2 separate regions of the Homo sapiens genome follow, and region 1 is linked to region 2. The links come from fine-mapping of genetic effects on gene expression. A gene starts in region 2. The other region holds a variant in brackets. All regions are shown on one strand. Distances are from middle to middle. Region 1 overlaps DESI1 (desumoylating isopeptidase 1). Region 2 holds the start of PMM1 (phosphomannomutase 1).

Region 1 (2,907 bases), 24 kb after region 2:
AGACCAGCCTGGCCAACATGGTGAAACCCCATCTCTACTAAAAGTACAAAAATTAGCCAGGCATGGTGGCACACACCTGTAATTCTAGCTACTCGGGAGGCTGAGACAGAAGAATCACTTGAACCCGGGAGGTGTTGCAGTGAGCTGCGATTGCACCACTGCACTCCAGCCTGGGCGACAAGAACAAAACTCTTGTCTCAAAAAAAGAAAAAAAAAAAAAAGAGTAGGTTAAGGGAGTTTCAGGGATGATCAGGGTGGGCCTCTTTGAGAATGTGATATTTGAGTGAAGATTTTTTTTTTTTTTTTGAGACAGGGTCTTGCTCTGCTACTCAGGGTGGAGTGCAGTAACGCGATCAAAGCTCACTGCAGCCTTGACCTCCCAGGCTCAAGTGATCCTCCCACTTCAGCTTCCCAGTTGCTGAGACTATATGTGTACCACCCAGGCCTACTTTTTTTTTTTTTTTTTTGAGACGGCGTCTCCCTATGTTGTCAAGCCTGGACTTGAACTACTGGGCTCAAGTGATCCTCCCACCTCCAGGCGTGAGCCACCAGGCCCAGCTTTGAGCCAAGATTTAAAGGAGGCAAGGGAAAGAGGGATGCAGGGGCAATGACATGCCAGGTTTATCTGAAGGCCTGTAAGGAGGCCAGTGAAGTTAGAATGGGTGAGGAGGGGAAGTAGAAGATGACCAGAGGTAATGGAGGACCAGATCACAGAGAACACTGCAGAGGCTGAGAACACTAAGCCTGAGCTGTCCAATATGGTGACCACTGACCACATGTGGCTATTTAAGTTAAATAAATGCACAAATTCAGTCCCTCAGTTCCACTAACCACATTTTAGGTATTCAATAGCCACATGTGACTAGTGTTTACTTACTGGACAGTGCAGATCTAGAACATTTCCATCACTGCAGAAAGTTCTATTGGACGCACTGTTTAAACTATAGTTTCCTATTCTGTAAAAAAAAGCATAATAACACTGCCTGCCTCATAACATTTCCAGGATTAAAAGAGACGATACATGACACATGCGTAGCACAGGGTCTGGGACATAATACATGCCCAATAAAGGCTAACTCATTTCTTCTAGGGTTTATAATTTGAAAGTTTTATAGTTGTTCTCATAGTACCCTGGTATTGAAACTATTCACGTGTCCTTCTCCCCAGTTAGACTACAGTTGCCTCAGTAACCAGGACAGTTTCTTATGTATCTTTATAACTCCAGCACCTAGCAAAGGACCTGGTCCTGAGATGTGACATGAACATCTGTTGAGATGAGCTGTTCTGTTTAGTTAGCTTTGTTGGTTGACACACAGTGCTATTGAGGACAAAGTTCCTAACCCCAATCTGGGCT[G/T]CCTGGCTTGTTATTGCAATGACTCTGCCACCCTGGCATACTGCACTCCCAGTCTACTGCTGTCTTCTCAGATGCGCATGCTCACTGACTCAGGAGTACAGCTGGCAGGTATGGATGTATCATCAGCTCAAACCCATTCCTACTAAACAGATTTTTGAAGAGGGGCCTCAGTTATTTCACACCTGAAAAACAACTCAAAAGTTGCAGGATACAAACCCTACTTTATTCTCCTTTATATCCTTTGTATCATCACTGAATTTGCCTGTAAGCTACACGCCACACTTCCTATTCAACTGCATCAAGGTACACTTAGGATCTCATCCATTCATAGAGTGGAGATAGGGACTATAGAAAAAAGATCCCCTTATTTATTCATTCTTTCTTTTTTTTTTTAAGACGGAGTCTCGCTCTGTTGTCCAGGCTGGGGTGCAGCGGTGCAATCATGGCTCACTACAACCCCCGCCTCCCGGGTTCAAGCAATTCTCCTGCCTCAGCCTCCCGAGTAGCTGGGATTACAGGAGCTCGCCACCATGCCCGGCTAATTTTTTGTATTTTTAGTAGAGACGGGGTTTCTCCATGCTGGCCAGGCTGGTCTCAAACTCCTGACCTTGTGATCTACCCGCCTCGGTCTCCCAAAGTGCAGGGATTACAGGGGTTAACCACTGCACCCAGCCTGTTCATTCTTTCACTTATTCATTCATCCACCAAACACTTGGAGCCAACAATAACATTAAAAATGAATTGAGTGAATTTACATCCTTTCTTTTTTCCTTTTGAGACAGAGTCTCACTTTGTTTCCCAGGCTGGAGTGCAGTGGCGTGATCTCGGCTCACTGCAACCTCCGTCTCCGGGGTTCAAGTGATTCTTCTGCCTCAGCCTCCCAAGTAGCTGGGATTATAGGTGTGAGCTACTGTGCCCGGCCTACATCCTTTTTTTTTTTTGAGATGGAGTCTCACTCTATCACCCAGGCTGAAGTGCAGTGGCATGATCTCGGCTCACTGCAACCTCTGCCCTCCGAGTTCAAGCGATTCTCCTGCCTCAGCTTCCCGAGTAGCTGGGATTACAGGCATGCGCCACCGTGCCCAGTTAATTTTTGTATTTTTAGTAGAGATGGGGTTTCACTATCTTGGCCAGGCTGGTCTTAAACTCCTGACCTCAGGTGATCCACCCGCCTTGGCCTCCCAGAGTGCTGGGATTACAGGCATAAGCCACCTCACCCCACCTTGTTTTCTTCTTCTTTTTTTTTTTTTTAACAAAAAAGTTCCTTTTCACCTGTTTTCCACATGCATATCTGCAGAAGATTTCATTTCAAGGAAGAGTTTCACAGCTAAAGAGCATTTGAAAACCACTGGTCAGGCCACATGCAGTGGCTCACGCCTGTAATCCCAGCACTTTTGGAGGCTGAGGCGGGCGGATCACGAGGTCAGGAGATCAAGTCCATCCTGGCTAACATGGTGAAACCCCGTCTCTTCTAAAAAAAAATACAGGCCGGGCGCGGTGGCTCAAGCCTGTAATCCCAGCACTTCGGGAGGCCGAGGCGGGAGGATCACGAG
Region 2 (2,907 bases):
CACGACACCACGCCCATCTACTTTTTGTTTTGTTTTGTTTTGAGACTGAGTCTCCCTCTGTCGCCCAGGCTGTAGTGCAATGGCACATTCTCGGCTCACTGCAACTTCTGCCTCTCGGGTTCAAGTGATTCTCCTGCCTCAGCCTCCCGACTAGCTAGGATTACAGGTGCATGCCACCACGCCTGGCTAATTTTTTGTATTTTTAGTAGAGATAGGGTTTCACGATATTGGTCAGGCTGGTCTTAAACTCCTGACATCGTGATCTGTCTGCCTCGGCCTCCCAAAGTGCTGGGATTACAGGCGTGAGCCACTGAACCCAGCCTAATTTTTGTATTTTTAGTAGAGACGGGGTTTCACCATGTTAGCCAGACTGATCTAGAATTCCTGACCTCAGGTGATCTGCCCACCATGGCCTCCCAAAGTGCTGGGATTACAGGCGTGACCCACAAGCAAATGGCCCACCTTTGCTCCAGTCCTGCTATCTTCCTCCCGGATCCACCCCTGCAGGAAGGCCTCCAGGGCCCAAGCCAGGGCAACTTCACCACAGAGGATGGGGAGGGGCATTCGGGACCTAAGAGAGGAGGCTAAGACCTGGGTTCCCATCAGCCACTGCCCAGTAAAGCCCATCCCACTGCTCCCCCACGCTAGGAGACCTGTTGGTTGGTCCTTGAGGCCCCCAGACTGGAGGGTGGGTTACCCACAGGGAGGGCATGAATGAAGCCTGCTTACTGATGCATCCAGCTGGTGAGGGGGCTTTTGGGGACTCACTCACAATGAGACCCAATGGGAGAAAAACTGAGCAGAGGTAAGAGGCTCAACACAGCGAGAGTCTTTAGAAGAAAACTAGACTCTTACCCTCACTATTCCTCAGTGTCCTCACAGCAAACAGGCTAGGCCTGGAGCCTCTCACATCCGGGTGGGTAGAGCTCATAAACGAATTTGAAAAGAAGCCCTCTCTGCTCCACGACTGGGGGTGGAAGGTAAAGTGGGTGATGGGGCTTCAGAAACTAGACCCAGTCCCAGGCCTGCAAAGGTCGGGGTGGGAAGACTCCGAGACGCCCTGTCTCCCACCAGATGATGACTGACGCTTGGCTGTGTGCTTGTGTGCCTGGAACCCCGGTTCAGAAGCCAGCTCCGACCACTGGTGTGTCGTAGGGCTGAACTAGGGTGGGATCCCCAGCTCAGGAGGCGGGGGCGTCCGTGAGCCAGGCCTTAGCGGCGTGTGACAGCCTCCGGGGAGGGAGGGAGCTAGGCCCCTGCTCGCAGCCTCCTCCCTCCAGTACTGGATCCAACCCCAGCACTCCCAAGCAGAACACAGGCAAGGACGCTGCGGGGTCAGTGACGTGAGGGCCAGGTCCCCTCACTCCCGGTGGGTGGCCCCGGATGTCAGGGGGCCGGGTACCGCCGCATCCCACACTCGGTCCCCGGGTGTCCACGGTCACGCTGCTGCAGACCCCACACTCAGCCTCGGGGGTGTCCGCGTGACACTCCCGGTGGGAGCTTCCAATCTTCAGGGTCCTACCTGGCGAGCCGGCGTGAGGGTCCCGTCCACGTCAAACAGGCAGAGGACGCGCTCCTTCCTGCGGGCTGCCTGGGCGGTGACTGCCATGGCTGCAGGTCCGCGCGCGGGGCGGAGTCCCGAAGATGCAACGGCAGAAGCAGCTCAGGGATAAGTGCTGACGGGGCGGGGCATTAGGGGGCGGGGGCCAGTGGACTGCCTGATTGGCCAAATGAAGAAGGGGCGTGGTCTAGGCGGGCGGAAGCGGGGGCGGGGCCTGAGCTGATTCTCATTGCTCGTGGAGGAGGGGAGCGCGGCATAGGGCGGAGCGGAGCCCTCCAGGTTCGATTGGATTGCTCCAAACAAGGCGGAGGAGGGGCCTGAGCCTGGGACCCGCAGGAAGTGAGAGGGTGAACCCGGAAGACAGGGGCGGGGCCAGAATTGGCGGGTTGATAGTGATTGCAACAGGCCGATTAAGGGGCTGGGTCGGGCGGGGCCTCTACCATGCAGTGCAGTGTCTAGTGGGCCAGGCGGGACTAAGAGAGCCGAGGTCGCTCCCCATCCACTCTCACAAGGTTTGTGGCCATCTCTTTGCCTTACAAATTTTGAGCTGTAGGAAATCTCCTGAGCCGGGCGCGGTGGTTCACGCCTGTAATCCCAGCAGTTTGGGACGTCGAGGCGGGCGGATCACCGGAGGTCGGGAGTTCGAGACCAGCCTGACCAACATGGAGAAACCTCGTCTCTACTAAAAATACAAAATTAGCCAGGCGTGGTGGCGCATGCCTGTAATCTCAGCTACTCAGGAGGCTGAGGCAGGAGAATCGCTTGATTCCAAAGAAGCCAGAGGTTGCGGTGAGCCGAGATCGCGCCATTGCACTCCAGCCTCAAAAAAAAAAAAAAAAAAAAAAAAGGAAAGAAAAGAAAAGAAAAGAAATCTCCTGAAGGCCTTTGTTCAGGCTTTGGACTTTGCCAAATTGCCTTCCCCGAGCCTTATTCCTTCTGTCCACACATAAGACCCAGCTCTCAGGGTCTACCTGCTTGGAGACCTTCCCAGATTCTTCTTTTTTTTTTTTTTTTTTGAGACAGAGTCTCGCTCTGCCCAGGCTGGAGTGCAGTGGCGGGATCTCTGCCCACTGCAACCTCCACCTCCCAGGTTCAAGCGGTTCTCATGCCTCAGCCTCCCGAGTAGCTGGGACTGCAGGCGTGTGCCACCATGCCCACCTAATTTTTGTATTTTTACTTACTTTTATGTTTATTTTATTTTATTTTTGACACAGGGCGATTTATTTATTTATTTATTTATTTTTTGAGACTGGGTCTCACTCTGTTACTCAGGTTGGAGTGCAGTGGCATGATCTCGGCTCACTGCAACCTCCGCCTCCCAGGTTCAAGTGATTCTCCTGCCTCAG

Evidence for each region. PIP is the estimated chance that this variant, and not a neighbour inherited with it, causes the effect. A credible set is the group of variants that fine-mapping cannot tell apart.
Region 1: its variant is the best candidate, but not a certain one, in a credible set for the expression of PMM1 in whole blood (INTERVAL, PIP 0.74).

The regions. Positions count from the first base shown.
Region 1 is chr22:41,612,308-41,615,214 of GRCh38, forward strand. All of the region lies in intron 1 of DESI1 (desumoylating isopeptidase 1), which reads right to left. Among named protein-coding and RNA genes, the nearest start is that of DESI1, 7.3 kb to the right of the region's middle. The variant G/T (reference allele first, on the strand shown) is at 1,355.
Region 2 is chr22:41,588,197-41,591,103 of GRCh38, forward strand. It overlaps PMM1 (phosphomannomutase 1), which reads right to left and starts at 1,644. Exons shown (of 8, transcript NM_002676.3): 1 at 1,523-1,644. The coding sequence starts at 1,609. RefSeq lists an enhancer at 769-1,448 and a silencer at 1,843-1,992.